Linked DNA regions of Homo sapiens. The protein of the gene in region 1 purifies or fractionates together with the protein of each later gene. This does not show direct contact. Each region holds a gene or a part of one and is shown in the gene's direction. Other genes may lie near its edges.

What was found.
Region 2: the proteins of AKR1B1 (region 1) and PGD fractionate together in Homo sapiens (co-fractionation; one large-scale study listed by BioGRID). This does not show direct contact.
Region 3: the proteins of AKR1B1 (region 1) and CSMD1 purify together in Homo sapiens (co-immunoprecipitation; one large-scale study listed by IntAct). This does not show direct contact.
Region 4: the proteins of AKR1B1 (region 1) and HEBP1 fractionate together in Homo sapiens (co-fractionation; one large-scale study listed by BioGRID). This does not show direct contact.
Region 5: the proteins of AKR1B1 (region 1) and PRMT2 purify together in Homo sapiens (co-immunoprecipitation; one study listed by IntAct). This does not show direct contact.

What each region holds. Positions count from the first base shown.
Region 1 is NC_000007.14:134,452,270-134,456,647, reverse strand, and holds part of AKR1B1 (aldo-keto reductase family 1 member B1), read left to right. Parts: intron 1-4,378. UniProt on the Homo sapiens protein: Catalyzes the NADPH-dependent reduction of a wide variety of carbonyl-containing compounds to their corresponding alcohols.
Region 2 is NC_000001.11:10,405,086-10,409,463, forward strand, and holds part of PGD (6-phosphogluconate dehydrogenase, decarboxylating), read left to right. Parts: intron 1-2,985; coding exon 2,986-3,055; intron 3,056-4,378. UniProt on the Homo sapiens protein: Catalyzes the oxidative decarboxylation of 6-phosphogluconate to ribulose 5-phosphate and CO(2), with concomitant reduction of NADP to NADPH.
Region 3 is NC_000008.11:3,406,164-3,410,541, reverse strand, and holds part of CSMD1 (CUB and sushi domain-containing protein 1 precursor), read left to right. Parts: intron 1-936; coding exon 937-1,119; intron 1,120-2,316; coding exon 2,317-2,643; intron 2,644-4,320; coding exon 4,321-4,378. UniProt on the Homo sapiens protein: Potential suppressor of squamous cell carcinomas.
Region 4 is NC_000012.12:12,990,012-12,994,389, reverse strand, and holds part of HEBP1 (heme-binding protein 1), read left to right. Parts: intron 1-4,378.
Region 5 is NC_000021.9:46,645,123-46,649,500, forward strand, and holds part of PRMT2 (protein arginine N-methyltransferase 2), read left to right. Parts: intron 1-3,335; coding exon 3,336-3,497; intron 3,498-4,378. UniProt on the Homo sapiens protein: Arginine methyltransferase that methylates the guanidino nitrogens of arginyl residues in proteins such as STAT3, FBL, histone H4. Acts as a coactivator (with NCOA2) of the androgen receptor (AR)-mediated transactivation.

The sequences.
Region 1 (4,378 bases):
CCCACTTGTATTCCTGTGGATGAGGAGATCAGGTTGGTGTAGAATTGTACGGTGGGGGCAGCGGGGAATGGTGGGTCAAAGTAATGGTATAAGGATGGACTTGGAATCAACTTCCTTTTTTTTTTTAATGACTTAAAACCTTTCCCTGGGGCCGGGCGCGGTGGCTCACACCTGTAACCCCAGCACTTTGGGAGGCAGAGGCGGGCAGATCATGAGGTCAGAAGATAGAGACCGTCCTGGCTAACATGGTGAAACCCCGTCTCTACTAAAAATACAAAAAATTAGCCCGGCATCGTGGCACGCACCTGTAGTCCCAGCTACTTGGGAGGCTGAGGCAGGAAAATCGCTTGAACCCCAGATGTGGAGGTTGCAGTGAGCCGAGGTCCCGCCACTGCACTCCAGCCTGGGCGATGGAGCAAGACTCCATCTAAAAAAACAACCAAACAAAAAAACCTTTCCCTTGTATGTGTGTATGTATTCTTTCACAGATGCTCGACAGAAGATGTGATCCTTTGCCTGTCTTTGTGACAGCTGGAGGAGGCCCTGCAGGCAGGTGCAGTTCCTTATTCTCCTGGGTCTTCCCATGCCGTAGCGGCTGTGTTGTACCTTTCAGACCCTCAGCAGGGCTCTGGTAGTCTCTACTCTTGAAGGTCCTCAAACTCCATTCTCTTCTCAGGTGAGGGTTTCAGGCAGATGGGGAGACCATCTCTGCCCCAGACCCATGTGGCTTGGACAGGGTTTCTTTCTGGCAGTCTTGCCTTCTACATTGGATAGTAAACAATTACACCTGTAATCCCAGCACTTTGGAAGGCCAAGGCGGGTGGATCACCTGAGGTCAGGAGTTCGAGACCAGCTGGCCAACATGGTGAAACCCCCTCTCTACTAAAAATACAAAAATTAGCCCGGCATGGTGGTGGGTGCCTGTAATCCCAGCTGCTTGGGAGGCTGAGGCAGGAGAATCACTTGAATCCAGAAGGTAGAGGTTGCCATGATCTGAGATTGTGCCACTGCACTCCAGCCTAGGCGACAAGAGCAAAAAAAAACTCGGTCTCAGAAACAACAACAACAACAAAAACCCATCACAGCATTGTAAAGCCAGGAAGCTTTTAAAACAGAGATGATGTCTGGTGCCCACCAGTGTCTTGTTACTGATAGTGTTTTTAATCTAGTTGAAAAATTGTTGGAGGTAAAAGTCATTGTAAGTCTCCTATGTATGCTCACAGAATACTCCTAGGGCTGAAGGTACAACTATGTTTCTCCATCTTTTGCCATGATCACTACCTCCCTCCCACCTAGGAGCCTTGTGAGACTTTTTTTTCCCCTAATTTGCCCCAAAATAAAATTGTAATATCAGAGATAATATTGTACTTCTGCTTATGGCCAGTAGCCTTCTAGAGGGTCACAAGCTGTTCTATAAGCTGAGGGGGGTTTTTTTGCCCCAGAGAACTAATTTTTGTCTCTTTGGGGACAATAGCACCCACTTTAAGAATGCATGAGGTAAAAGAAAATGTGCCAGGAAAGACTTGCTCCACCTTCCCCAAGTGGGGTAAGCTTGTGATGGCCCAAGATCCTTGGATGGGGTGAGGGTTGAGGCGCTGTGGGCATGGAGGTAACACAGGAGCCAGATTTACTGTTCACTTCCCTGGTGTCTCTAAAGCCCCCATCTCTTCCTCTTCAAGACCAAAGACATTTAAATAAGCCCTGCCCCTACAGGGTCAGTCCTGGTCCATGCACATCTCAACTAGTTGGAAACAGCAGTGTCTTAGAATTTGGGACAAATTGATTAAAACAGAACAGGAGGAAGTTAATTTCTGCTGCCAAACCTGATTCTGAGTGATCGTTTCCTGTTCCTTGCTCCAGGATTATCAGCACAGCATTCTCATGCTTCCTACTCAGGACCGTTTCTTTACCCAAAGTGAAGTTTCCTTTGCCCCCTCCCCTTATCCTTTGATTTCAGTAGTAACACCTGCTAACTAGAGAACATTTCAAAAATGAAGAGTTCCCTGTTCCCAGAGATCCCCGTGGTTAATATTGCAAAATATCCAATCTCTGAGATACTTTGGTTTTACCATAAACACTGTCCTGTGACCGTCTTCCTGTTTAGCACTGTGGCTTGCTTTTTGACTTGCAGAGGGAAGAGAGGGAGGGGTATCTTGAAGTAACTAGCAAGACCTGTAAGCAAAAGGGAAGAAGACTAGGTTTTAAAAGGAGTGTTGTATCTGTGTAGGAGGGAGACACTGATTTTAGTTATCAGTGTCTCAGAGTTGGTATTAGCCAGCCGGTGTTATCAAAGGAGGAACTAGGACCGCTGTCTTGAAGGAGGTGGTGGAGGACTCAAGGGCAGAGGCTTCTCACTGCCATCACTTGGTGCCATCAGCCCAGAGCATTTCAAGTCACTGCCCAACGTAGAGCTTTGCAGAGCCAGAAGTTCTGGGAGGAATGGGCATGCATGGTTTTGCCCATCAAGGGCACACAGATTAGTGGCAGGATCGGGTTAGAAACATGTAGGATTTGTATGATTGAGCTGTAATTGGAGTGTTTCATATACTGCATTTCTACAGCTCTCATCAGTAATGGCTGTGCCTGGATGCCACCCAGCATGTTTTCATAGTTTACCTTCTTTTTAGAAGTCAATCTGGACCCCTCCTTCTGTTTGCATTTTCTCTTTGTTGACATGGAATGGGGAGATGTTGTCATCCTGTGTTGGCATTCCCAAGTTTAGTGAATGGTTTCTCACCATAGCTTAAGTTGGCTGCTTCATTTTTCATAAGGCAAATTAGTTTCTCTCAGGGAAGGGCTGTACATTGAGATCATTAACATAGAATGTGGTTGTGGATCCTCGTACATTTTCATTGCAGAGGTGACTTTTTCCCTCCAGCACCTTTGATCAGCCTCCCAGCACACATGTCTCCAGCGAATGGCACATATCCAAGGAATGATCAGCAGCTTCTTCGTGACCTCTTGCAGTCATTGCTGTCTTTTACTTTTCTAGAAAAACCTCTCACAACTTTTTTTTCATGTCGTGCCAACGCAAGCTTGATTATCCTAGTCTGTGCTCTTTTGGTTCCAAAGAACTGAAAAACCACTTTAATCTTAAGCAGGAAAAAAAAAAGTGTGTTTGGGGTGGGGATTGATTGACTTCCCCAAACAACAGCCGCTGACATTAGGTGTTTGAGATTCAGGGTTGTAAATGTTGTCACCAGGATTTGGCCTCCCTCCACTTTCCTGCAGCAGCTCCAGGCTGACATTCTCCCAGCTCAGTGACCCCAGCAGAACCGGGGCTGGACTCAGGGGTTCCAATTCAAGTGCAAAGATTGAGTCTTATGGCCTGGATTGAGTCATGTTCCTGTCCCCGCACCAGTTGCATGGCAGGCAGTGCGTGGCTAGGCTGAGCCTGCGGAGTGTGCCCTCAGCAGCTCCTCAGAGAAAAATCAATCAAGGCGCCATCAAGCCTGGAGAAAGTTCAGTGTGTCCTGGGCAGTTTCCTGCCTGGGCCCCAGTTGTTCTTTCTGGGGTAGGGATGTCCTCTGCTCTCCCTGCTGTCATCAGTGGTGGTTGTGCCCGGACACCACTCAGGGCCTGTGGTAAGGCATTCTTTCTGGAAATTGAGATTCTCTGTTCCTTCAACCGTGCAGAGTGGGGAAGGCTGCAAGAGCAGCTTCTGAGGTCCTCCAGTCAAATAAGAGGTCGCCAGGTCCTCTGAGGGTCGTCCCCTCTTAACCCACACCTTCGATGAGCATCCCCACCCTGCCTCGCTGCTCCCTCTGAGGTGGAGAGTGAGCTCCATGCTAACAGGCTCTGGTAACGGGCTTGTTCAACTGGGCCCCTTTCTTCCCCAAAGCCTGTTGAAAATAGCTGATGTCAAAACACAGATGTCTGCAGCTGCTATGGCCCTGGGGGGTTTTTCTTTTCATTTGTTTCTACCCCAGCTCTCCAAAGGAATGTGCTCTGTTCATTCAACAGCCCGCTGCACATGTTTATTGCTCAGCTCTGTGATCATAGCAGGATAGTGAAAGTTGGGGGATACGTGTCCATGCAGCCTACCTGGGTGCCAGTGAAGCGCGATGCCATGTAGGCACTTCCTCCTCCTCTTCAGTAGCCAGGCTCCCCACAGCTGTTCTGGTTACTCAGATGGTCAGGTGGCTTGGCCATGGACACCCATTCAGTCATTTTGCCAGGTCAGCCACTAACCATTTGGTGATCTTCCATGATCCACATTCCCCCTCGTTTCCCTTTAACTTATTTCTCTCTGCTGATACCTCTGAGGGGCCATCTCCCGTGTCTCCACCCCTTGAAGCAGATCCTCATACAGTGAGAATTGACACATGGGCCTTTGAATAAACATCAGTGATGTGCTTAACTTCATGATAATCTCCCA
Region 2 (4,378 bases), on another chromosome or scaffold:
ATAAATTGGCCGGGCGTGGTGGCTCACGCCTGTAATCCCAGCACTTCGGGAGGCTGAGGCAGGCAGATCACCAGGTCAGGAGATCTAGACGATCCTGGCCAACATGGTAAATTCCTGTCTCTACTAAAAATACAAAAATTAGCCGGGCATGGTGGCGTGCGCCTGTAGTCCCAGCTACTTGGGAGGCTGAGACAGGAGAATTGCTTGAACCTAGGAGGCAGAGGTTAGTGAGCCGAGATCGCGCCACTGCACTTCACCCTGGCGACAGAGTGAGAGTTTGTTTCAAAAACAAAACAAAACAAAACAAACAAAAAATACACACACACACACACACACACACATATATATAAATAATTGTGGGCAATCCGATATATATATAAATAATTGTGGGCAATCCGCTTGCCCTGGCCTCCCAAAGTACTGGGATTACAGGCGTGAGCCACCGTGCCTGGTCTGAAATATGATTCTTTAAGGCTGGGCATGGTGGCTCACGCCTGTAATCCCAGCACTTTGGGAGACTGAGATGGGAGGATCACTTGAGGTCAGGAGTTCAAGACCAGCCTGGCCAACATGGTGAAACTCTCTACTAATAATACAAAAATTAGCCGGGCATGGTGGAGGGCACCTCTAATCCCAGCTACATGGGAGGCTGAGGCACAAGAATCACTTGAACCTGGGAGGCAGAGGTTGCAATGAGCCGAGATCTCACCACTGCACTCCATCATGGGTGACAGAGCGAGACTCGGTCTCAGTAAAAAAGAAAAAATGATTCTTTTTTTGAGACGGAGTCTTGCTCTGTTGCCCAGGTTGGAGTGCAGAGTGCAGTGGCGCGATCTCTGCTCACTGCAAGCCCCACCTGCCAGGTTCACGCCATTCTCTCGCCTCAGCCTCCCAAGTGGCTGGAACTACAGGCACCCACGACCACGCCCAGCTAATTTTTTGTATTTTTAGTAGAGACGGGGTTTCACCGTGTTAGCCAGGATGGTCTTGATCCCCTGATCTCGTGATCTGCCTGCCTCAGCCTCCCAAAGTGCTGGGATTACAGGTGTGAGCCACTGCGCCCAGCCAAAAATAATTTTTTTAATTACCTTTCTGGTGAATGAGTCTGGGGATTCTCTTCAGTGTGTTATTAATAAAACACAGAAGTAGAGAGGCCTTTCTGCTTCTCAGAAGTTTAAACAGCTGTGTGTGCAGTGGCTTGCACCTGTAGTGCCAGCTATTCAGGAGACTGAGGTGAGAGAACTGCTTGAGCCCAGGTGTTCAAGGCCAGCCTGGACAACATAGCAAGACCCTGTTTCTTAAGAAAAAAAAAAAAGGTTTGAAAATACTTATCTCGAAGCACCTGCACAGTGAGCAGTTAGAAAGGCAACCAGCAGACAATGCACGTAAAAGTATTTGACATATGGAGTGCTCCAGTTGTTTCCATCAGTTCTCTTTCCTCATACTGTGGTGGCAGAAGTACAAATGGCACCTTTACCAGAAGGACACTGTAAAAGTTCAGTGAAGCTCTGCGGTTTCCGGTGTGGCTGTCTTCATCCCTAATCCTAAATGTTAACTTTGCAACCCTGTAAGATTTCATGTCTGTACCAGAAACTTTTTGTGAGGAAGCCTTGACTGGCCATTAGGGAGCAGAACAGTGAGGGAAAGTCTCAAGAGTAATATATCCGCGTGCTGAGCTGTGGAAGGAATGAACAGCGGCCTTTCTCTGAATGGTAATGTAGCTCTCAAAAACGCTGCCTGGTTCTTAATCCAAATGTCCAGAACCATTCTGTGCCTGGCAGCACACATCCAGACAAATGAAAGAGGGTCTCTTCACTTGCTAAAAGCCATTATAAGGAGAAATAAAGAAAAGGGAAAAAATTAAAAGAGGATCTCTAAAGGAACTTTCGTATTGCCTGCTGTTTGCAATCATACTGTCTGCTGCTGCTGCAGTAGAAATTTCTGAGCCGGGTGCGATGGCTTATGCCTGTAATTTCAGTGACTCAAGAGGCTGAGGTGGGAGGAGTGCTTGATCCGAGGAGTTCAAGACCAGCCACATCAACATAGGGAGACCCCATCTCTGCACCACCAACAAAAAATTAGCCAGGCATGGTGGCTCACGCCTATGGTCCCAGCACTTTGGGAAGCTGAGGTGTGAGGATTGCTTGAGGCCAGGAGCTCAACACCAGCCTGGGCAACATAGCAAGATCCTGTCCCTACAAAAAAAAGTTTTTAATTAGCTGGGTGTGATGGCACACACCTGTAGCCCCACCTACTTGGGAGGCTGAGGCAGGAGGATCACCTAAGTCCAGGAGTTTGAGGCTGCAGGGAGCCGTGATTGTGCCACTGCACTCCAGCCTGGGCAACAGAGTGAGACCCTGTCTCTAAGAAGACATTTCTTCTGGTGCTTTGGTGATGCTTCTGCTCAGCCTTTCTGTCTGTAGTCTCAGTCCGATAGTCCAGTCTGCTTTGAGGGCCCACCAGGACCTGGAGGAGGGGCCAGTTTCAGTCAAGGGTCTGCAGTTGACCTTGAGAACTTAGCACATTCATTATCTTTTTGTGGGCACTTCCACCTCCCATTAGAAAGAAAAAGATGGGCCCAGTGCGGTGGTGGCTTATGCCTGTAATCCCAGCACATTGGGTATCCACGGTGGGTGGATCACTTGAGCTCAGGAGTTCGAGACCAATCTGGGCAACATGGCAAAACCCCATCTCTACAAAATCCAAAAAAATGAGCTGGGTGTGGTGTCACATACCTGTAGTCTTAGCCACTTAGGGGGCCGAGGCAGGAAGATTACTTGAACCTGGGAGGTTGAGGAGGCTGCAGTGAGCTGAGATCACACCACTGCATTCCAGCCTGGGTGACAACGTGAGACCCTGTCTCAAAAAAAAAAAAAAAGAAAGGAAAAGATAGGGGTTGGTGTCTATGGGTATGTTGGTGTCTATGGGTATGGGCTCTCAGCCCGTCTCTTCTCATTAACTGAACCACACTGTTTCTTTACACAGGCCCCACATCAAGACCATCTTCCAAGGCATTGCTGCAAAAGTGGGAACTGGAGAACCCTGCTGTGACTGGGCAAGTTCTGGGCTACTCTTTAAAGCCAATTGGCAACATGGGCGTGTCTAAGTGATGAAGTGCGTGGAGAAAGGCCACCGTGGTCTCCCAGGGGTTAGCTTGGTGACATAAACGTCTCGATCTTTGATTGCTAGAATAGCCAACGCCTAGAATGCATGCCTGCTGTTCACATCTTTGTATCTTAGCTGACTGTTCATAGCCTTGAGGTTGATATTAAAAGCAGCCTTCTATAATTCATCTAAAAGATGAATTCTTTAAAAAGGAATAGGATGAAGTGAAATAAGATTTTTTCGAGCCATATTATTTCATGGCCAAAGGAAAGAATGTCAGAATCAAAAGTGGCGTTTGCTTGCATGGGTGAAAGGTGGAAGATTGAAGGTACTGTTGCTGTGTCAACATTCCATGAACGTGGAAAATTCCCCATCCTGTAGTGTGGGATTCAGGCATTCTGTGCTTGAACAAAGTAACCTGTGGACTTGCACCCTCACTGAATATGAAGGAGGCCTAACCTAGTTCATAGTACAGTGGTGCGATCTTGGCTCACCGCAACCTCCACCTCCCAGGCTCAAGCAATCCTCCTGCCTCAGCCTCCTGAGTAGCTGGGACTGCAGGTGCATGCCACCACGCCTAGCTAATATTTGTATTTTTTGTAGAGACGGGGTTTCACCATGTCACCCAGGCTGGTCTCAAACTCCTGGACTCTCAAGTCATCTGCCTGCCTTGGCCTCACAAAGTGCTGAGGTTACAGGCATGCGCCACCATGCCCGGCCTCGTGTTGCTGTTAAAGTAAACTTTATCTCATATTGTAGTTCAGCCATGCTGTGGATGGAAAAAAGCATTAGGCTCAGGAGACCTGAGTGGCAGTTCTGGCTTTCCATAAACTTAACTGTGACATCAGGCAAGCCACGTCCCTTCATGGACTTCAGTTTCCTTATCTGTAAGATATGGGGTTGGATTACATGATCTCCAAGCTCTCTTCAGCTCCTGATTCCCTTTAATTTTATATCAGCAATTTTAATGTGAATTTTATTATTCAATTTTATTTTATATGAAATCAATGCTGAGGTTGAAATAAGGACTCAGGCCTTTGAGGAATCCGGGAAGCCCTCCCTCCTAGGCCTGCCAGTGCTTGGTGGCTTTGGCCACAGCAGCTCACTTGTCCTTACCTTTTCACCAGTGGTTGGCCATTGAGCTCAGTCAGAATCTGCTTAGGGTAGAAAGAGGCTGGTGCTGGGACTGACGTAAAGAGCTGAGTAATCTTCTCATTAGTGTGAAGGATTGGAAAGGGACCTCTGTTCCCTGACAGTAGATTACTGCGGTAAA
Region 3 (4,378 bases), on another chromosome or scaffold:
AGAAAGCTTGTGCAGGGCAACTCCCCCTTAGAAAACCATCAGACCTCCTGAGCCTTATTCACTATCCTGAGAACAGCACAGGAAAGACCTGCCCCCATGATCAATTACCTCCCACCAGATCCCTGCCACAACACGTGGGATTCAAAATGAGAATTAGGTGGGGACACAGCCAAATCATATCCAGCCCCATGTGTGCGAGGATTTTGTCTCATTTATTCACTAAGCCCTTACCTAGAACAGGACCTGACACACAGTGGCTCTCAAAAATAGTCTTTTAAATGAATAAATAAATAAAATATTTTAATGAAAACATTCTGTGTAGTTAACATTTGAGACAGATCAACATTTGAAATATAGGTTTGGTGTATTTGGACGCATATGTTATTACAGTGATGTTTTAATGAAAGATTGATTCTGAATATTTTGTTTTCCTCTGTAGACCAAACTGTTATTCATTCTGCTTCATAAGTGAGTGTTAACATTCATTTTAGGGAAAGAATATTCAAATAGATTCTATTTATTTAAATACTCAGTAGGGAATGAAGAATATTATTTGTATTGTTTATAGCAAAAAGCACATAGTTGAAAATTAAACTGGTATTTGCATTTTAGTAGTAGCAATTGCAGATAAAAGATCGGAGGTATCCAGAAGATGCACCGATTAATTGCAGCATTTGTGTTGTCAGCGTATCTGTGTAGCCACGTGTATCCCTTAAAAGATAGCAAATTAAATACCTTTCCCTTCATTTGAAATGACATTCTTTTTCTGGTATTTGAAATTAAATTTAAGATCAATTGAATATCCTTTAGAAACACTTTACAAAAATGATGTTTAGTTCAGCAAAAAGAAGCCACGTATTTACTTTCTAAGTTGTAGAGATAAAAATATTCCTTGTGTGTGTTTTTTTAAGGGTTCATTTGTTTTTCCATTTTCAGAAATTGAAAAGGGAGGGTGTGGGGATCCTGGAATCCCCGCCTATGGGAAGCGGACGGGCAGCAGTTTCCTCCATGGAGATACACTCACCTTTGAATGCCCGGCGGCCTTTGAGCTGGTGGGGGAGAGAGTTATCACCTGTCAGCAGAACAATCAGTGGTCTGGCAACAAGCCCAGCTGTGTATGTGAGTATTATGCCTTGACCTGGACTCCCTCCTGTCCTGCAAGGATCTTGCAAGGGGAGAAAAGGAGAAAGACACAGACCGCCCATTTAGGGAGGGCAGCTTTCAGAATGGCTCGGGGTGCCACATTTACTGGAAACGTGCAAGGACGTTCTCGAACACCAACTTGCCTGCTTTCTTCATTTAGTAAAAACTAATTTATAGTTTCATTACATCTACTCGACAAAATGTACTTGAACGTTTCCTACCAGAAAGGGTCATCACATATATCGTTGTTTCCATCAAAAGCCAGTGATGATCTGCTGTATCAGACATCAGTACAGCAACAGAGTCCTTTGTGACTTAATAATGCTGTATAACACTTAAACACAAGTTGTTCACCAGTGCGAGCATGGGTGGTGGTATTGGTTTGGAATTCAGTTGATGAGCTGCCCACTTCCTCTTAAGAATACTATTTTAACAAGTAGAAAAGGCTTCACAGTCGATTTTAAAGGAGAGGTTTTTTTTATTTGTAAATAACTATAGCAAAGGCTGAAAAGTGTGTACAAAATTATATGGAATAAGAAGCAAAAATGTATTCTAGAGATAAATCCAACAGTTTCTCCCTCCAAAAAATTATTTATATAATATATATGATTTTAAGTACACATTCTTAAAAGTAAATTTTTCAAAATACTTTATATTATCCAACTAGAACATGATCTGATGTTTCCAAGTTATTTATTTATTCATGTTTACCCTGTAACTAATAAAAATTTTAAATTACTGGAGAAAATGCACTCACAGGAAAGTATAAAATATAAATTTAAAAGTTATGAAAGAGCAGGCTGAATTGTTCCTATGATATAGGAATATACTTTTCCATATTAATATTTGCTCTTCTGAAGGCAGAAAATTATAACTAGAAATTATAATATTTGGCACACGTTTTCAGTCAACTGGAAAGGATCATTTTTGAACCACGCTTGTGCTTGATTATGTATAGGTTCTGGTTGTGCTCTATATGATAATGAAATATTCGACTTACAAATTAGGAAAGGAGAAAACATTATGGTCCAGAATTACTTATATTAAAATAGTTGGATCATCATAGCTATTTGCAGGCATGAATTGCCTTTCCAGGTTCTTAGCTGTCTGTTTCACATGGCAATTCTTTGGATATGTGCATAACTGTTTGAAAATATATTTGCATCTTCACAGTTTCATGTTTCTTCAACTTTACGGCATCATCTGGGATTATTCTGTCACCAAATTATCCAGAGGAATATGGGAACAACATGAACTGTGTCTGGTTGATTATCTCGGAGCCAGGAAGTCGAATTCACCTAATCTTTAATGATTTTGATGTTGAGCCTCAGTTTGACTTTCTCGCGGTCAAGGATGATGGCATTTCTGACATAACTGTCCTGGGTACTTTTTCTGGCAATGAAGTGCCTTCCCAGCTGGCCAGCAGTGGGCATATAGTTCGCTTGGAATTTCAGTCTGACCATTCCACTACTGGCAGAGGGTTCAACATCACTTACACCAGTAAGTACGCCCACACAGTCAACACATCCAAGTTCTCATTTTACTTACATGTTCCCATTTTGCTTATATGTATGTGAAGTTGCATTTCAAGGTTGATACTTCAGAGGTTTTATAATCATTATGAAAATGACAGTAGTAAAATTATAGTGTTATCCTGAAAACTTAAAAACAAATGTATCACTGTATTTAGATAGGTGGCTTCATCACTCCTAAACTAAGAAGCTGGATCTCCTCTCTCTTTCATCTCCTTACATCTCTTTCTCTCCGGTTTTCCATTTATCCATCCATCCATTCATCCATCCATCATTCTATCCATCCATGCACCCACCAAACCATTATTCCATCTATTCTTCCATTCATCCATCCATCTGTCCATCTGTATCCTTTCATTCATCCATCCATCATTTCATCCATCCATGCATCTATCCATCCTTTCTTCCATCCATCTTTCCATCCATCCTTCCATCTATCCATCCATCCTTCCATCCATTCATCCTTCCATCCATCCATCGTTCCATCAATCCATTGTTTATCCATCTTTCCATCCATCCATTCATCATTCATCCATGTGTCCATCCATTCATCCATTATTCCGTCTATCATTCCTTTTATCCTTCCATCCATCTATCAATCCATATCCTTCCATTCATCCTTCCCTTCCATCGTTTTGTCCATTTATCTATTATTTCACCCATCCATCCATTCATCCATATCCTTCCATTATCCATCCTTCCATCTGTCCATCCATCCATGCATGCATGCATTCATCCATCCATCCTTCCATTCATCTTTCCATCCATCCCTCCATTCATCTTTCTTTCCATCCCTCCATTCATCCAGCCAGCCAGCCATTCTTCCTTTCTTCCTTCTATTCTTCCTCCCATCTATACAACCATCCACCCACCCACTCAGCCACTTATGCATCTTTCTTGCAACAAAGTAGTGTAGTAAAAACAACTGTGTAATATGATGTCAGGAGCCAAGGATTAAAATACAGCACTAGTATGTAATTAGTGAAGTTTAATGACAGCTCATTCTCTTTGCTTTAGGCTCCTCATTTTAAAACCTATTTTATGTAAGAATATCTACTTAAATGCACTGTAGATGGAATAAAGTGAGAGAATATTAATATGAGTAATACTACATTATGATATGCTAACTGCCTAGTTTCTTAGGCAGAATACTTAGAATTGGACAATAATTGTTTCATTTAGTGTTATAGTAACTAGAGGATATAAATTTAGTAGTCTCTCATTCTGTAAATAAAGATAGCTAGGCTTAGAGCGTCAGAGTCATATGCCCAATGTCAGAGTCCTCTGACATAGTAAGAAAAAAAGTCAGGATTCTAACGAGAGAAATCTTGAGCCCAGACACTTTCTACCACCCACCATATCAGTTCTCTCTTTGTCTAAGCTCCTATGAAAAGTGCTTTTCAAACCCTAAATTGCTGCATAAATGATAGTTATATTTGTTCATCTCCCTGCTCGCTCTTTCTCACTAGACACTGATATCCTATTTATTAATGTATTATCTATCTATGAATGATACAACTGAAATTTATATAATTATATACATTATATGAATGCTTTATAAGCTTGTTCTGTTTTCTTCTTTTTTAATACATGTAATTAATACTCAAGTATTTTTATTCCTTTTTTCTTCTTCTTTTTCTTTCAGCATTTGGTCAGAATGAGTGCCATGATCCTGGCATTCCTATAAACGGACGACGTTTTGG
Region 4 (4,378 bases), on another chromosome or scaffold:
TAGAGTAGATGAACTGGCTTGCTATCAAATCACCATCACTGGACTAATGGTTACAAAATCCAACTCCCACAACAGCCTCTGAGTTCTTCTGAGATCTGGCCCCTGCCAGAACACCTTTTTTGTGTCCTGCTTGACAGTCTTTGCTCCAGCCACAACTATTTGTAATATTTGTACTCACAGTCATCATACTGTTCTTGACCCCTCCTCGTTTACTCTTATGGTACCCACTACCTGGAATATCCTCCCCAAATGATCAGAGCATTTACTGCATTGTACAATAATTTGTGTAATACTCCTCACCATCCTCCTGATTATCCCTATCATATTAATCTCCAAATCTGTACCACCTGGCAAAGGTTTTCGACAATGTTTATTCCATGAATTAATAAAGTAGTGACTGAACGTCCGGTTGGGTGATCTGTGACCACCTCAAAGTCAGCTTGACCTCCCCAAACATGTTATCACATACACCCATGCCCCATAAACTAACCTAAGTGGTCCTTTCCTGTGTTCCCATACTGCCCTGGCACTCCTTGCCCCCTAAAAATATCATTAGATGATAACATTCTGTTTTCCTGGCATCTTCCCTTATAGCACCTGTAACAATGTTCAGCACATGGTAGATACTCAGTAGTTGTTGGTTAAATGAATAAAAGAAGAAAAAGACCAAAGGAAAGAGCCAGTTAGCTCTTTCTCCAGTGAGATCTTGTTTTTGGTCTTCCCATTTGTAAAAGAAGTAACTGCGTAAAATGACTTCTGATACCTCTATTCTGAATTTGATATGGGCATACAACTGTCCGCCCAAAGTATCTAACACAGTGGCTAAAGAGAGAGGTTACAGACTGGGCAACATTGCAAGACCCCATCTGAAAGAGAGAGAGAGAGAGAGAGAGAGAGAGAGAGGAAAAGAAAAAAAAAAAAAGCAAAGACACTTTGGAAGGCTGACATAGGTGGATCGCATGAGCTCAGAAGTTTGAGACCAGCTTGGGCAACGTGGTGAAACCCTGTCTCTACAAAAGAAGACAGAGAAAACAAAATACAAAAAAAATTAGCTGGGCATGGTGGCACACACCTGTAGTCCCAGCTACTTAGGAGGATGAGGTGGGAGGATCACGTGAGCCCAGGAGGCTGAAGTTACAGTGAGCCAAGATTGTACCACTGCACTCCAGCTTGAGCAACCATGAGACCCTGTAAGAAAGAGAAAGAAAGAGAGAGAGAGAGAGGAAGGAAGGAAGGAAGGAAGGGAGGGAGGGAGGGAGGGAGGGGGAAACGAAAGAAAAAAAGAAAGACAGAGAGAGGAAAGAAAGGAGGATAAAGAAAAGAAACAGAGGTTTAAATGCTCACTTCACCCCCCATAGCTTTAGAGAACCTTGCAACGAGTATTAGACTGGAGTAGACTAGAGTTTGGGAACTGGAATTTTTGTTTCAGTTTCACCATTCAGTAGTTACATCACTTTGAGCAACTTAGTCTCTCTGGTTCTTCATTTTCTCCTTGATAAAATTAGTTAGATTAGGTAAACTTTAAAACCATTTTAGGTTCTGAACTTCTGTGATTCACAGGATAGTGTTTCTGGAATTTAAAACATTACAAGTGCCAAGGGTAGGTGCGCTCTCAAATGAAAGGGGAGTTCTGGAATTCTCTGCAGCAACAGAAAGAGCAAAACACCCTAAGTTTACTTAACAGTTTGCTACTGAAGGCTCTTTGGAAGTGTCAGATTCACCAGATGGAGGGCTTCACAGCAGCCTCAGAATGATTCAGCACGGTGCCCCACAGTCAAGGCTGACTTGCTGCCTCATGATTCCTGGTCTGGCGCAATTTCCTCTACCCCATGTGAAGGGGGATTTAAGTACAAACTTGGCACTCAGGGTTAAAATTACAATATTAAGGCCGGGCACAGTGGCTCATACCTGTAATCCCAGCACTTTGGGAGGCCGAGGTGGGCAGAACACCTGAGGTCAGGAGTTCGAGACCAGTCTGTCCAATGTGGCAAAACCCCATCTCTACTAAAAACACAAAAATTAGCTGGGAGTGGTGGCGTTCGCCTGTAGTCTCAGCTACTTGTGAGGCTGAGGCAGAAGAATCACTTGAACCTGGGGGGTGAAGGTTGCTCTTAGCAGAGATCACACCACTGCACTCCAGCCCGGGTGACAGAGCAAGACTCTGTCTCAAAAATAAAATAAATATTAAATATGCTCATTGAGACTACACTTGCCACTCACAGCCGTACAGTCCTGCCTTCCTCCAGAGACACCTTCTGTCCCCCTGGGAGTCACACCCTCTTCCCTAGTTGTGAATCTTCAGTCTAGGATATTATATGAAAACCTATTTGACCAGTCTAGGGCAGCCAGGTTCCCTACCATGTGTCTGTTTTTCATAATCATTGTTAGGAGACACAGCACCTTAATCAAATAAATATCTGTTGCACTTCTCACATGTAAAGCTCTGTGGTATAGTTTCTGCCCATAAAGGCTTTATTGCAGATTGTTAAAACTATAATAATGTTTCATTACCAGATGGTAAAATTAACATAGACCAACTTTCCTTCTTCTAATGGGATGGAATAAAATTCACTCCAGTAGAGTAGAAGAGAAGAAAACAGGATAGGGGAAGGAACAAAAAAAAAGCCAGGATGCATCTCATCCATAAGGGTAAAGCATTACTTTGTGAAACTTTAACTATGTGTATATTCATGATAAGACAGGCTGTAAAAAATGCTTTCCTTCTTGTGGATTGTGATTTTTTTTCAAAATGTGAAGAACACTGCCTTACAGTATGTCCAGGAATACAAAATTAAATTATATGAGCAATCACGTGGCAAGGAGCAGGAGATGTACTGAAGGAGAGCTGTGGGGGTCCATAATGAGTAAACACCAGGGAAAGGATAGTCCAAGGACAGGGCCTCAATGCAGAAAGTGGTGATGGGGAGATGAAAGAAGGATTTGTGTGAAAAGAGACAGTGGAGCTGAGCATTAAGCAGATTGGGAGGCTGTGATTTAGTGAGACAAGAGTTAGGGAGAGGATATGCTGTGTCTGGGAGCACGGTGTGAACAGAGCTACAGTCAGCCCTTCCTGTCTGTGGGTTCTGGATCCACGATTCAACCAACCACAGATGGAAAATATTCAAAAAATAATAATAGCAATACAGCAATAAAAAATACATAAATCAACAGCAGAGGCCAGGCGTGGTGTAACTGCCCAGTGGGTTCACCTTGCCTGCTGCCTAGATAGAACCAATTTATCAAGACAGGGGAATTGTAATGGAGAAAGAGTAATTCATGCAGAGCCAGCTCTGCGGGAGACCAGAGGTTTGTTATTACTCAAATCAGTCTCCCTGAGCATTCAGGGATGAGAGTTTTTAAAGATAATTTGGCAGGTAGTGGCTTGGGGAGTGGGGAGTGCTGATTGGTCAGGTTGGAGATGGAATCATGGGGGGTGCCAAGTTAGGTTTTTCTTGCTGTCTTCTGTTCCTCGGTGCAATGGCAGAACTGGTTGGGCCAGATTACTGGTCTGAGTGGTGTCAGCTGATCCATCGAGTACAGGGTCTGGAAAATATCTCACGCACTGATCTTAGGTTTTACAATAGTGATGTTATCCCCAGGAGCAATTTGAGGAGGTTCAGACTCTTGGAGCCAGAGGCTGCATGACCTCTAAATTGTAATTTCTAATCTTGTAGCTAATTTGTTAGTCCTGCAAAGTCAGACTGGACCCCAGGCAAGAAGGGGGTCTTATTGGGAAAGGGCTGTTACCAATTTTCTTTCAGAGTCAAGCCACGAACTGAATTCCTTCCTACAATTAGTTCGGCCTAAGCCCAGGAATCCCACAAGGACAGCTTAAGGGTTAGAAACAAGATAGAGTCAATGAAGTCTGATTTCTTTCACTGTCATAATTTCCTCAGTTATAATTTTTGCAAAGGCAGTTTCAATTGTGGCTCATGCCTATAATGCCAACACTGGGAAGCCAAGACAGGAGGATTGCTTGAGCCCAGGAGTTTGAGACCAGCCTGTACAACATAGGGAGACTCTACCAAAAAAAAAAAAAAATTTTTTTTTTTAATTAGCAGGGCATGGTGGTATGCACCTGCGGTCCCACTTACTCAGGAAGCCTAAGTAGGAGGATCGCTTGAGCTCAGGAGGTCGAGGCTAGTGAGCCATGATCATACCACTGCACACCAGCCTGGGTGACAGAGTGAAACACTGTCTCAAAAATAAATAAATAAATAAAATACATGTGTGTGTGTTTGTGTGTGTGTGTGTGTGTGTGTGTGTGTGTGTGCACAGAGAGTAGCAACTATTTGCTTGGCTTTTACATTGTATTAAGTATTATAAGTAATGTAGAGATGATTTAAAGTATGTATGAGGATGTGTGTGGGTTATATGC
Region 5 (4,378 bases), on another chromosome or scaffold:
TGGGCATGGTGGTGCACGCCTGTAGTCCCAGCTACTCGAGAGGCTGAAGTGGGAGGATTGCTCAAGCCTTGGAGGCCAAGGCTGCAGTGAGCCATGATGGCGCTGTTGCACTTCAGCCTGGGCTACAGAGCGAGAGCCTGTCTCAAAAAAAAAAAAAATAGAAAAAATTCTATAAATCTATGAATAATACTACTTAGGTCAGGTGTGGTGGCTCATGCCTGTAATCACAGGACTTTGGGAAGCTGAGGTCAGAGCATCACTTGAAGCCAGGAGTTCAAGTCTGTGGTGAGCTATGATTGCGCTACTGCACTCCAGCCTGGGTGATTGAACCAGACTCTGTCCCTAAAAAAATAATAAAAGCCCAGCTTCTAAATAGCTTACCGAAATTTTTTCCCCACCATGGAGAAATGCCTATAACCCGATGGTCCAGGCAACAATCTCTGGTTACATTTTAAAACTAGATGAAAACAGTTACTTGCAGGATGAATGTTATAAAAATGATGTTAGTTGAAAGAAGGAATAGGGCAAAGAATCTATAACGTTTGACTCAATTATATAAAGTTAAGAGGCCATATTAGAAGGTTTTTTGTTTGTTTTTGTTTTTTTTTTTTTGAGACGTAGTCTTGCTCTGTCACCCAGACTGGAGTGTGGTGGCAGGATCCTAGTTCACTGCAGCCTCTGCCTCCCGGGTTCAAGCAATTCTCCTGCCACAGCCTCCTGTGTACCTGGGACTACAGGTGCGTGCCACCATGCCTGGCTAATTTTTGTATTTTTAATGAGGGGGTTTTGCCATGTTGGCCAGACTGGTCTTGAACTCCTGGCCTCAAGTGATCCTCCTGTCTCAGCCTCCCAAAGGGCTGGGATTACAGGCATGAACCATTGCGCCCGGCCGGAAGGTACTGTTTGTGAGTGTGCATGGGTGCTGAGACTGACTGAGGGCAGGAGTGGCTCCCCTGTTGGTTGAATGGAGGTTACCTGCTGGTAGGGGAGGCTCTGGGACCAGCGTGGCTGAGTCAGGAGTTCTGACATGCTGGCAGTGTTCTGGGGTTGGATATAGGTATAGAGGTGTTTGCTATATAACAATACTTGACTAACTCTGCAGATACTTTTTATTGCACTTTTTCGCAGGTATGCCATATTTCACAATTAAAAGTGTTAAAAACTATTCATGTCTGTACATGGTTAGTGATTTCTATCCGTTAAGGAAAGATACATAATGAAAAGCCAATTCCAGCCTCCCACCTCTGCCGCCTCTCAGCTCAAAGAACCACTGCCCACCAGATTCCTCTGTGCTTATGAAGTCCAAGTGACACCTAATGTATTTTACGTTTTTAATGTATAGAAAAGGCATTGTTCCACCACTCAGGTCTTCACCTTGCTCTTTTCACGTAGCTGTAGTATTTTGAAGATCTCTCATATTGGCACCTGTCACTCTTTATAACAGCTGCAGAGCGTTGTGTTACTTTAAAAGGGTCCTGTTGATATTTGGACAGTGGTTATTTAATAGCTTTTTATCATGATAAATAATGCTGTAATGGAGTCCTGTATAATCCTGTTAAATGCTGTTTAGAATTTCTATAGGGTAAATTCCTACGGGGTGTGTGTGTGTAGTGTGTACATGTGGTTTCCTTAAGTGGATCTTGCCAGTTCGCCCTCCAGAAAGATTTGCTAATTATACACTTGGTCTGTTTGTGCTGCTGTAACAAAATACCTTAGACTGAGTGAATTATGAAGAACAAAGCTTTGTTTCTCGCAGTTCTGGAGGCTGGGAAGGCATTGGCATTGGTGTCCAAGATGGCGCCTCATGGCTGTCCTCACGTGGTGAAGGCGGGAGGGCTGGGAGCACCTCTTTCACCACAAACCCTTTCATAGTAACCTCCAAAGGTGGCCTCTTAATGCCATCACACTGACGATTAAGTTTCAGTACATGGATTTTTGGAGACATTTCAGACCGTGGCATGATGGTGTGTGAAAGCTCATTTCCCTACCACAAATCAAAGTGAAAAAGGACTTTGATCTTAAAAGTTAAATATGGCATCTTTTAGTTTTGATTTCCATTTTTTAAGTAAGATTGATTATCTTTTATGTGTTTATGGGCCTTTTGTATTTTTTCTTTTTTTGTAAACTTTCATATTATTTGCCCCTTTTGATTTTTGTTGATTCGTGTGTTAAGTAATTTAGCCTGAATTTGTGAAGTTTTGTGACTTTGTGAAATTTTTTCCCACGTACAACTTTTTTCTTTGTATAGCCTAATATGGTTTTCTTTTCTTTGTGACTTCTTTTTCTTTTCTTTGTGAAAAACCTTCCTCACTATAAGATTATAAATACCCACACTTTTGTTTTCAGAACTGTTATGATTCTGTGTTATTTTATTTTTGTTTTTTATGTTTTTTAGAGATGGTGTCACACTCTGTCGTATGAGTGGCTGGAGTGCGGTGGTGCAGTCATAGTGCACTGTATCCTCAAACTCCTGGGTTTAAGGGACCTTCACCTTAGCTTCCCAAAGTACTGGGATTACAGGGGTGAGGCACCCTGCCTGGCCTTCTGATTCTATTTTAAACAATGAGATTTTAAATAATAAAAAATCTAGAAATTATTTGTTGTAAAAAATATAATGTAAAATTCCGCCCTAATGTATGCCCACAAATCTCCAGCGACCCCAGCCTCAGTTACTGGACAGTTCCCTTCGCGTTGATGTGAAACGGTGCGTTTGTCCTGCTCTGGATTTCAGGGGTCTGCTGTAGAATTCCTGTTGTTTCACTGGTCTGTTTACTGCAGTTCCCAGTGCTTCGTCATTTCCATCACTGCACCTTTGTAGGATCTGCAAGAGCTAGGTCTCCAGCAGTTCTTTTTTTTTTAAAGCATTTTCCTCATTAGCCTTGGGCACTTACTGTTTTGAAACTAATTTTATTATCATTTTGTTGTGCTTTCTCCTTTAGTAGGTACTGCATGGAATGTTTATGTTAATTTTGGGAGAGCTGACATCTTTATAACATTGACTCTCAGTCTCTGATTACTTAAGCTTTGTTTAATATCTCTTAGTATTTTAAGATAAGGACAATATCTCTTTGTCATACATGGTTGTGCACCTTTCTTGTTAAATTTGTTCCTAGGTATTTTTTGTGTATTATTACTGTTATAAGGGGGTGGGTGAAGTGTTCTCTAAATACCAATGAGATTAACTTGGTTGACAGTGATGTCCAGGCCTTCCATAGTCTTCCATAGGGGTGTTGGGGTCAGGGGTCATCAGCTGTGGCTCTGACCCTCCATCTCAGTCCAGACCTCAGCATGGCTCTAGGTCACAGGCAGTGATTCTGAATGTGCATTTCTTCCAGAAACTCCACTTGGAGATGTTGGCAGACCAGCCACGAACAACTAAATACCACAGTGTCATCCTGCAGAATAAAGAATCCCTGACGGATAAAGTCATCCTGGACGTGGGCTGTGGGACTGGGATCATCAGTCTCTTCTGTGCACACTATGCGCGGCCTAGAGCGGTGAGTGGGGTCTCGAGCGCATCCCGGGTGTTTGTGCCGAGGCTGGTGACGTCCGAGGTGGCCTCTGAGTGTGCTGACTTGTGACCCTGAGCTGTTGGGGGCTCACCGGTGACTCCATGGTCTTGTTGAGCACCCTGCACGTGGGGCTCAGGGTCGGTAAAATAGCAGTGCGTGGAGACCGCGTGCTAGAGGCCGTGGCGCCCGCGTACAATGAGTCGCAGACAGCACAGACGGGAGTAGGGCAGAATAGACAATATCCCGTGAATTGCGTGGGGCGGGGTATGTTCTGTGAGACGTTTATTTCAGTTGAGTAGAGAAACACGTGCACCCACATGTCTGTGCTGGGCCTTGGGTGTGGTTGGTCTCATGGGGTTGGGAGGGATGCACACGCTGGGCCCCCTCCCCACCCCTCTTAGGCCGTCTATACTGTGCTGAGCTGAGCCGAGCTGCAGCCTTGGAGACTCCTTACACAGTGGGTGGGGTCGCAGCACAGTGTCCACCCAAGTCCAGGCTCTGCAGGACCCAGGACCCAGCGCTTGGGTGCTTCCCACCAGACCCTTCCCTGAGAACCTGGGTTTGAAATTGTCTGACAGGCCTCAGATGTGGCACAGACCAGCATTGTCACTTGGGTGCTAAGAAGTTGCTGTGCTGGTCATGGATTAAGATTGCTGTGCGTGTGGCAGCCGGCTCGGGCATGCGAGTCTTCCATCCACTTGCAGCCCTGCGTCTGTGTCTTGTCCGGGAGGTGGGGGCAGTTGGGAGGGTTAGAGGCGGCTCCTTTCTGGGTGCCCCTGGAGGGGCAGGTGTGGCCAGTCCTCGCTGCCTCTGCTGTCTGGAATGCTGCTTCCCTCTTGTGTCATTGACCATTTCTCGTGATGCTG